Regions from separate parts of the Homo sapiens genome. Here region 2 is linked to region 1. The links come from fine-mapping of genetic effects on gene expression. A gene starts in region 1. The other region holds a variant in brackets. All regions are shown on one strand. Distances are from middle to middle.

Region 1 (5,381 bases):
TCTAATAGGTATTAGAAATAATATGATAGGGAAACAAGCTCTTGTAGGGGAGGAAGAATCTTTTTCTCTACCTATCTTAGGTTCTCCGGCTGGGTCCTTGTGCATTAGACTGGCCAAAGACAGATGAACAAAAGTAAAGCAAGTTTATCAACACGTGCGTTGTTCATATAGGTAACATGGGAATACTCAGAGATAAGCAACTCAAAGATTTGGTTAGAACTTGGGTTTATACAGCATATTAGCCAAGGAACAATAAATTTTTAAAGAAATGACAAGATAAAGGATCTTGAGTCTCTAGGGGCAGCAAATTGTCGGAAAACAAATATATGGGAGACTAGTTGCAGATGAAGGCCAAATACTAAGGTTTATCATGTAGATTTTTCTTGTGTTGTCTCCAGGCTGACAGGGGTCTAAAATTGTCTCTGGTGATTAATCTTTGTCTTTCCTGGTAGAGCAGGAAGGAGGTACACCTTCGTAAACTTATATCCTGCTTTTTGGCAAATAGAGGGAGGGCAGAGTGCTTTTCTAGTACCGTGTACCTATTTGCTTCTTCCTAATTGCCTTCAGCTCAAAATAATCCTTAAACCAAAGTGGCATACACTGCCAATGCTCTTGAGTAGATTGAAGGCTCCAAAGTAAAAAGTGCTGTACTGTAGTATTGGATCTCCAAGCATCAGCAGTGAGTCAGGTATTACAATGCTGTTTTCAGTGAGTGTGCCATCCGTCTATGAGGAGAAATGAGAGGAGCTAGAAAAATAAACTGACAGCTAGAAAAATACTCCACTGAATCAACAAATAGACATTTCTTGAAACAGTAACATGCTCAATGTGCAATTTTGAAAAAGTAAACTGAGCAAGGATCATGAAACATGATGGTGGTGAGAATTTATACTTCTCAGGTAGCCAGGGGAAGCTAGGTTTCCACAGATTCCTTTGTCTTTCAGTCCTTTTGAAAACGGAGAAAAAGCAAGAGAAGAGGGACGGCACCATCAGGTAGAGTGGATCTCAGCTAGAATGAGGGGAAGTGGCCCAGAATCCAACCTCCTCCAAAGAGCTGTGTGACAGGCAAGTCCTATCCTTTCTGCACCTCTTTCCTTAAATGTAAGTTGAAGCATTTGGACCAGACTGTTTCAATGATCTTCTAGATTGCTTTTGCCAAAACAGAACTCTCCATTCCTGTAAGATAAGTACACAATGGCTCTCAGAGATCTAAAAACTGGCCTTGGTTACCTGCAAACTTTGAGGCCCCAAGGCACAAAAATAATAGCTTTTTTTTTTTATTTTTTTTTTTAAGGTTCATGAAAGCTTCGGACACAAAAGCTTATATGGTCTTCGTCTCTATAAATAAACCAGGGAGTAAAGAAAAACCCCGCTAGTTTCAGTAAAGCGTTGCTATTAAGCAAAGCAAACCTATGCAAATATCAAGTTCTTAATGAGGAGTGTTTCCTAAGGGGCCTGTCCTCTGGTACCCCGCCTCTCCTCTGCCACAGTCATGTGAAGGCAGACAGGCACACACTCGCACACTAGCACGCACTTGGGAGCTCAGGGAACATAACACTGGTTAGTGAGTCGGTGTCCCTCTCCCATCGATTGCAACTTTTCCCCTCCTTCCCTCTCCTGCCTCTCCCCACTTTCTACATCTCCGTTCTCAGGAAGGCTCAGGGAGGATCCCCCGCTGCGTGCACTGCGTTCTGAGAGGCCGGGGAGAGACTCTGGGCCCGCGGTCGGGGCGGAGCCAAGGTCCCAACCCACATTGAACGGGCTTGAGGATTACTTGGAGGGCTCAGGATCTAGGAGGAGGGCCCAGGGCACTGGGTTGGGGTTACTCTGGGAAAGCTCTGTGGGACCAGGTGGGACCTTAGGGCTGGAGATGGACTCTGCGAGCTGGGGGCGGAGTTCTAGACTGGCAGGAGCGGAGTTCTGGGTGGCGGGGGCGGGGTCGGGACCAGCAGGGACGGCCTCTGAGAGTTGGGGGCGGAATTCTGGGCCGGTGAGGGCTGGGGCGGGACCAGCAGGGGAGGCCTCCGCGAGCTAGGGGAGGAGCTCTGCATTGTCTGGGGCGGGGCTTCGAGTAGCGGTAGCGAGGTCTGGAGCCGCAGGCGCTGCCTCCGCGAGGTAGGGGAGGAGCTCTGTACTGTCAGGGGCGGGGCTCTGAGTAGCGAGGCCGGGTCTGAACTATCAGGCGCGGCCTCTGCGAGCTGGGGGCGGGGTTCTGCACCGGCGGGGGCGGGGTTGTGAGTGGTGGGGGCGGGGTCTGGAGCAGCAGGCGCCGCGTTTGCGAGCTAAGGTCGGAGTTCTGCACCGGCGGGGGCGGGGCTCTGCGTGGCCGGGGCGGGCTCGGGATCCGCGGGGCGACTCCCGGTCTGGCTTGGGCAGGCTGCCCGGGCCGTGGCAGGAAGCCGGAAGCAGCCGCGGCCCCAGTTCGGGAGACATGGCGGGCGTTAAAGGTACATCGCGGTCCCCGGCTCGCTTGTCGTGTGGTGGGGTTGCCACCTCCGTTCCGGTCAAGCCTGGGGCTGCGCCTTCCGCGCGCCGTTGGGGAACGGCCTCACCACCCTTCCCGCCTCTCCGGTTCGGGAGGCGATCGACCGCTCCCTTCGTCCCTTGGGGTGTGGGTGGAGCGGCGTTTCGGGGGAGCCTTGGCCCTTTTTGCAAGGCCGCTGGCCTTCCTGCTCTCCAGTGGCGGCACCAGACCCCTCCCCAGCCTGAGCCCTCGGCGAGAGCGGCGCCCTCCACCTCTCCTGAGTTTTTAAACAAGGTTTCCACTTCTTGACGCCACCCTAACGCCTTTCTTCTGGTTTTCTGCCCCTCCGCAGTTTCCTATTTGCCACAAAGGACCCTTTGTCTCCAGCGTTCTTAGCATTGGGAAACTTAATCCTCTTTTTCCTAATGATTTTTCCAACTGGGCAGAGTTGACCGCGGGCGGGTGTCAATGGAAAGCACCCAGAAAGACGGTGTTTCTCGCAGTCGTGGAGAGTAGATTACGTGTAATTTTAATACTGCTTTCTTCGGTGTTTTCTCTGTTTATGGACAGAGAAGAAACCAGTGTGTGTGTAGTATGTGTTTTTTGCATGGGGCAGTTGGTAAAAACACCGCGTCCCTTATCTGTATGGCTTCAGAGCAATGCGAGACGGAAAAGGTTTTTTGCAAGGCTTCCTGTATTTTGGTAGGAAAACATTCCATTTCTAATCTGTCGAATAGAGTAGCATGACTTGTTTTTATATTGGCTTTTATATCATCCTTGAAATTTGCACCCAAAGATATCCCCAGTTAACATCTGCTATAAACATGTAGATAGTATATATACGAGTACGCCTCTGTTCACTATGAATTTATCCGAGTATGTGAGCTGTTAGCAGCAGACATTTTATCGTTATTTCTGGCTGACTTTTATACTTAATATCAGTTTAGTAAACATGGTTTACTTGGAGAGTGTCGACTGTGTTATATATCCATTTGAAGCCAATGCCGAAAACAGATGAAAAGTAGTGTCTCAGTACTACACATGATCAGAAACTACCAAATCATGATCACGTTTATGTGTGAATGTGTTAGAAAATTGTGATGTAGTGAAAAAAAAGGAAGTCTGAAATGGAAACGGACTAAGGGAAGGAAGCATTTTACAGATTGTTCAACTTTTATTGAGGAACTACTGTATGCCAGAGACTTAGGATACAAAGATAAATGAGAAGTTATTGGTGGGTGACAGAGCTGGAAATAATTATATTACTATGTCAGTGTTTATGTTGGGCTCAGATGCGGTGGGAGAACAGATGGTGGGTTGGATTTTGTCCTCCAAAAAGATGTGTTCAAGCTCTAATTCCCTGGTACCTGTGAATGTGATCTTATTTGGAAGTAGTATCTTTGCAGATATAATCAAATTAAAATGATAACTGGTTTAAGGTGGGCCCTAATCCAATGACTGGTGTCCTTATAAGAAGAGGGGAATTTAGACATAGAGACATACAGGGAGAATACCATGGGAAGACGGAGACAGAAATTGGAGTGATGCAGCTACAAAGTCAGGAGCACCAAAGATTGTTGGCAACCATGCTGGCAACCACTGAGTGTTAGGAAGAGGCAAGGAAGGGTGCTTCCCTACAGCCTTCAGAGGGAGTGTGGTGGCGCTGCTGACACCTTGATTTCAGAAGTCCAGCCTCCAGAACTGTCAGAAGATAAATTTCTGTTGTTCTCAGCCATCCAGTTTGTGGTACTTTGTAACGGCAGCCCTAGGAAGCTGATGCAGGTGGGATTGATTCCCCTGCTCCAGAGAAAGGACTGTTTTCACAGAAGAGGCGATGCTTGAACTGAATCTGAAGGGATCAATGTGGCTTCCCTTGGCAAGGCATGGAGTGAAGGTGGAGTATATCCCAAGTGGGGAGGACAGCACGTGACATGGCGCAGGGCTTATGAAACAACATGCCTTCTTCTCTTCAGGTACTTAAGCTACATTAGTAAGACCAGAACTTAGTGGTGAGGGTTGAAGCTGGCTGGACAGGCAGTTAGGAGTGAGTCAGGCGATGGTGAGCCTCCGTGCCAGAACAACTTGTAGGCTGTGGAAGCAACCGCAAAGGGATGGCAGCGGTGATATATATAGTTGAAAGATCACTGTCTGCTGTGTAGAGGATGGATTGGAAGAGTCACAGAGGCAGGAATAAGAGGTTAAGGGCCTGCACCAGGGCTGTAGCAGAGAGTTTAAGAAGTCTGGGAGATTGAGTCACCTTGACCTACTGATTCATTGGAAGGTGGAATGCAATCATGGTGTCAGTCCTCTAAGATAGGACCTTTAAAGTGTAGGGATAGTGGTTTGGTTTTACACGTGTTACACATGTTGAATTTGAGGTTCTTGTTGGCGGTCAAGGCAGAGAAGTCCAGACTGGAGGTGGAAGTACAGGCCTAGTTCTTTAGGACCTACTCTGGGCTGGAGCATCAGTTGCGGCCGGGCCCTTGTGGTAGTAGGAGCTTTGGGTTGAACATAAGTTTTCAGCAGGAGTGCGTGGAGTGAAAAGAGAGATGGGGTTGGATTTTTGGTCAACTCCAACTTTAAGAGATTCAGAGGATGTGATTCCTGAAAAAAGAGGAAAAAAAAGACCAAAAAGAATCAAACAGAAAGATGGTTGTGAACGTTGAGAAACTGGTATCAGAACAGAAGGAAGAGGTCTGCAGTACCTAGCTTTGACAGGCCTCATGGAGGAGGGGGTACTGCCGATGGTCAGGCACAGAGGAGAGGAGCAAAGCCTGCTGGGAAAAGATCATCTGAATGAAATAGTATGTGGTATTTGCTTTCCATCCACACATGGGCATTTTCCATTAAAGAGTGGAAATGTAAAAAGATATGTTAAAATTGACAGTGTTTCTTTGTCCCTTAACATGTGTATACT
Region 2 (5,381 bases), 61 kb after region 1:
AGCCCATAGAGGTACACTTCCCCTTTGTACAGGTGAGGAAACCGAGAGAGGCAGAGAGGTTAATAAACTTGTCCCCAGAGTAACATGTAAGAAAATGATAGAGATAGGACATATCATGAAGCAATTTCCAAAGCGTATCTGGCATATACCAGCTTCGCTTCCAGAGACATCTACCTGACCAGAGGTAGAGCAGTAGTTTACACTTCTTCACTTGTTCAGACAATAAAGAAAATGGGTTTTGAGGAAGCCCTGTATGCCTTTCTAAAAGTGCTTTCTAAGACAGAGTACATATTTCCTGATCTTCTGTATATCCGTCATCAAACTCAACTGTCATCTTCTTAATGCCAGGTAGATACTAAACCACAAATCCTCCAAAACAACTGGGCAGAAAGTAGAAGACAATCAGCAGCATTCACTGCTTTCTAAGAAGGCAATTCCCAGGAATACAGTCCTGAAGGTTTAAGTTGAAAAAGAAACTTGATCTTAGTAGGTATGTAATCAGTTTAGCTCACTAAAAACAAAACAAAACAAGACAAAAAACAAACAAACAAACAAACAAAAAAACAACTCTGTCAGGTGGAAGGAACGTGAAACGTGTTAACCCATGAAAAACAGAAGCAGGCCAGAAGGAAGCCAGCTAGAATCTAGGGTTTAGAATGCGAGCAGTGCCTGTCAATCTACCCTTCAGTTCTAGATTTGAGAAAAGTAGTCAACCACCACACCAATGGACAATGAGCAGGACCAACAGAAACTCCATCCACCTACCTATTGAAAACCTGGAGCTTTAATAGGTCTTGCCTTGTTCAAGAAGTAGAGAAGAAAAATAAAACAATTCCTATGGTAGAAAAAAAAAAGATACTGTGCAACAAAGAAAAACCGTATCGAGATGGTTTTTGAGGAAGAATACACATGTGAAAACCAGCTAGTCTGGGATCCAGAAAAATATTTAAGAAATAGTCTGGCATCCTCAGAAAAGTACAAGAAGATATGGTGTCTATGAACCAGGAGCTGCATGGAGACAGATGTATCCAGTAAGGACTAGAGTGAAGCTAAGATATAATGGAAGGGAGACAAAACACTCCCTATCTCTGGAAACAAAATAAAATGGAATACAGGGTGCCAGTTAACCCTTGCAGTAAATGATAATTTAAAAGGAAAATACAAAATACCCACAGGTGAATGATAACGAAAGTATCTCATATCAAAATTTACTGGAAGTCGCTAAGGCAGAGGAAATTTATAGGTTTGAGTAGATTTTCTGTTTTTCCTATTTATTTATATATTAAAGATATATACATGAGGATATTTATCCCCATTTTACAAAAGAGGAAAAAGAAGCTAAGAGAAGTTGAGTAGCTTGTCAAAGTTCACACTACCAGTAATAGCAGAGCCAGGATCTGAACCAGGAGGTCTGGTTCACTCTTAATAAGACAGAAAAATCTCTAGCAAGGTTAAGAAAAAAAGAAAAGATATGAATAAGCAAAATACATGATAAAGAGAGAAAGAAAAAAATGTTTTGAACAACTAGCTTACACTCCAATAAATACGTATATATTAGTTTCCTAGAGCTCTTATAACAAAATACCATAGACTGAGTGGCTTAAGCAACAGAAATGCATTTTCTCACAGCTTTGGAGGCTAGAAGTCTAAGATCAAGGTGTTGGTAGGTTTGGTTTCCCCTGAGGCCTCTCTCCTTGGCTTGCAGATGACTGACTGCCTTCCTACTGTATCCTCACGTGGTCTTTCTTCTGTGTGCAGGCATGCCTGCTGTCACATGTATCTCCTTATAACAACAGCAGGCAGGTTAGATTTGGGCCCACCCTAACAGCCTCATTTTAACATAATCACCTCTCTGAAGGCCCTATCTCTAAATACAGTCACAATTCGAGGAATTGAGGATTAAGACTTTATATGAATTTTCTAGGAATATGATTCAGCCCATAACAGTCTAGAAAAGTGGGTTTCGGGGAAAAAAAACCCACAACTTCCCAGCATAAATGTGAAATAGAAAATTAAATACACCAATAATATAACATGATTATTAATCCTTTCCTTTTACTACCACATTCCTAGTAGATAGAGACTGTGGTTGTTTTACAGGTGAGTCCAAACACACTTTCCAAGGAACAGAAAATCCCTATATTACTTTAGTTGTATCAGAAAATAAAAGATAAGAAAAAGTTGCCCAACTCATTTCATTCTAAAAGTGGATTGAATAGGTATAATAAATAAAAGTAAATTATAGACCAATGTTTAAGACATAGGTACAAAAATCCCAGACTTTATATTATTTAAAAGTAATTACAGCAATATGTATAGGAATTAATACATCATTATCAAGTTCAATTTATTCCAGGTATGTAAATATACTTCAACTTTGGTACAAGTTTGGTACAACTTCAGACACATTATCTTTCAGGTAATTTGCTAATGTTACTAAAAAAAAAAAAACACCCCAGAAGAAAAGTTAAAACCCTAAACAAAAACAAGAAAAAGAAGAGTATAAGAATTAGAAGAAAAAAGAGGAAATTAGCATTTTAGAAATTTTATATGATGATTTAATATGGAACACCTACAACAAGCTACAGATACATTACTAAAATTGATTAAAAAGTTTAGATAAGTTGTTGGATAAAAATCAATATACAAATACATTGTATTTCTATACAACAGCAACAAAGCTCTAAAAGAGCTGAAATTAAAAGTTACAATTTAATTTACAATGGCAATTTTACACA[T/TACACAC]ACACACACACACACACACACACCAGGGAATGAGCTGAAAAAATAAAGACCTTAATGGAGACAATTATTAAATTTATTAAAAGATATTAAAAATACCAGAATTAATAGAAGATATATCATATGTATGAATTTGTAGACAAAATATTTTGAGATGCTGTATCTACTCAAATGGAACAATATATTCAATGGGATTAAAATATGTATCTGAAGGCAATCTGTGTTGTACTAAAAAGCTTGAAATGACAAAGCTTGAAAGCTGGTTCTAAAATTTATATAGATGACTTGAGGGTCTGAGAATGACCCAAATTGTCCTGAAAAAGATGAAGCAAATTTTATTATTAAGCTTATTAAATAAGAAGTGAGTGAGTGACTGGTATGAGGACTAAGGGACCAAGGGAGCAATGGAACATAACAAACTTGGTATGTGACAGAGGTGGCATTGCTGAAAACCAGTGAAATGAGGGAATTGGTCAACATATGGGGTTGAAATAATTGGTTACTTACATGGAAGAAGTGGAATTGGATGTTCACTTTACCATGAACATAGATATCAATTCCATGTCTATTAAAAATGTAAATGTGAGGCTGGGTGCGATGGCTCAAGCCTGTAATCCCAGCACTTTGGGAGGCCAAGGCAGGCGTATCACAAGGTCAGGAGTTCGAGACCAGCTTGGCCAATATGGTGAAACCCTGTCTCTACTAAAGATACAAAAAAATTAGCCAGGCGTGGTGGCACACACCTGTAATCCCAACTACTTGGGAGGCTGAGGCAGGAGAATTACTTGAACCTGGGAGGTGGAGGTTGCAGTGAGCCGAGATTGTGCCACTACACTCCAGCCTGGGTGACAGAGTGAGACTCTGTCTCAAAAAAAAAAAAAAAAAGTAAATGTGGAAGGTAAAAGTCTACAAAGGGAGTATCTGTGACTTGGGGCAGGGAAATATTGCTTAGACAAAACACAAAGCGCACAAACCATAAAGAGAAAGATTGGTAAATTTGAGCACATTAAGAACCTCTGTTCATCAGGAGACACTGTAAGGACAGCAGAAAGCAGACTTGGAGAATGTTGTGTGTGTGTGCGTGTGTGTATCTAGCAAATAATTAGTATTCAGATATACAAATCAATATTGATTTTTCTACAAATCAATAAGAAAAAGACAATACCATGGACATGTTCTCAAACTCCTTAGTAATCTTGGAAATGAAAATTAAAACGACAATGTATCACCATTTCCTACCTATCAGATTGGAAAAATACAACCTGATATTACAAAAAACTGTTGATGTAGGACAATGAGAACCTTAGACAATGATAGATTCAGCATGGAATTAACCTAAAGGAATAAGGCCTGTCTCCTAAGTTTTTGAGGGAGTTACGATATCACAACAACCTTAGGCTTGTGTGGCATCAGCCTGTGAATATTAACTTATATCAAGGCCACCGCTATAAAATCAAAGTCCTTAAAATGCCCTACCAGGACTTGGTATGTATGATCTGGTTCTCCCTTGCTTCTCTAATCTCACTTGTTACTACTTTCCCATCACTCTTGCCATCCTCAGTCCTTGGAAGTATTTCTCGATTATTCTTTTATATTTGCCATTCCCTCTTACCGGAATATCCATCCTCCAGATATCCACATGGCTCTGTCTCTTCATTCATTCTAGTGCCTGCTGAAAGGTCATCTTTTTAAGATGATTTCTCTGATAATTTTATCTGAAAAGTGACCACCCATCCTACTTGTCACTATCTTCTTCCTTGTTTTTTTTTCTTTATAACCTTCATCATGACTTTACATTTTAAATTTTTAATTTTTTCCCTTCTCTCCTTTTTTTTTTGAGATAAAGTCTTGCTCTGTTGTCTAGGCTGGAGTGCAGTGGCACAGTCATAGATCACTGCAGGGTAATTTTAAATTTTTTGTAGAGGTAGGGTCTTGTTACATTGCCCAGGCTGGTCTCGAACCCCTAGCTTCAAGAGATCCTCTTGCCTCGGCCTTCCAAAGTGCTGGGATTAAAAGCACCAGTCACTGTGCCTGGCCTTTACACTTTTTTATTGTGTGTTTGTATCCGTCCACTAGGCTACTATTGCGATACCCCTAGTTCCCAGATTACTTGGCCCATAGTAGGAGCTTAATATTTGTGTAATCAGGGGACATGAAATTCCTTATAAGCTCTTATTTAATAGAATTAACAAAATATTTTACTTCTAGATTTTAAAATCTAATTTACTAACATCATTTGGGAATTTTGTTACATATACATGCCTCCCACACTTTTTTTTTTAAAAAAGAGTTCGTTTATCACACACTTGTTTTTTAAACTAATGATTTGCTTTCAAGTCAGTGTTGTCACACGTCCAAGGTTTTCCTACATTCTGGTCAATATTTATTCTATTGTGGACTGTACAAAGAGAGCGTCATCAGTTGTTCTTTTAACACTGAGACTTGTCAATATGAACTAGGAAAGAATGATGATAAAGAACACCGAAGGTACAGGAGGACTCTGGGTGAGGCATAGTGCCATCAGATCAGAATCCTGAGTATTTCATGCAACTGAAAAGCCTCTGGCTTCAATAATAACTCATGGGGAAGGAAAGTTGTTCCACACCCAAAGAGATCATATTTTGTAACAAGCCAATGAGATCAAGA

Direction of the effects. Positions count from the first base shown, and alleles are read on the strand shown. Sizes are in standard deviations (SD) of each study's normalised expression.
For the expression in fetal neocortex of the gene that starts at base 2,375 in region 1, allele TACACAC in region 2 goes with a lower level than allele T (moderate effect, 0.70 SD a copy in Walker 2019).

Evidence for each region. PIP is the estimated chance that this variant, and not a neighbour inherited with it, causes the effect.
Region 2: its variant is fine-mapped to the expression of LEPR in fetal neocortex (Walker 2019, PIP 0.95).

What each region holds. Positions count from the first base shown.
Region 1 is chr1:65,418,294-65,423,674 of GRCh38, forward strand. LEPR (leptin receptor) reads left to right here and starts at 2,375. Exons shown (of 20, transcript NM_002303.6): 1 at 2,375-2,447. It overlaps LEPROT (leptin receptor overlapping transcript), which reads left to right and starts at 2,375. Exons shown (of 4, transcript NM_017526.5): 1 at 2,375-2,447. The coding sequence starts at 2,432. RefSeq lists enhancers at 1,689-2,221, 2,222-2,755, 2,829-2,878 and silencers at 1,869-1,938, 1,959-2,458.
Region 2 is chr1:65,479,385-65,484,765 of GRCh38, forward strand. All of the region lies in intron 2 of LEPR (leptin receptor), which reads left to right. Among named protein-coding and RNA genes, the nearest start is that of LEPROT, 61 kb to the left of the region's middle. The variant T/TACACAC (reference allele first, on the strand shown) is at 2,739.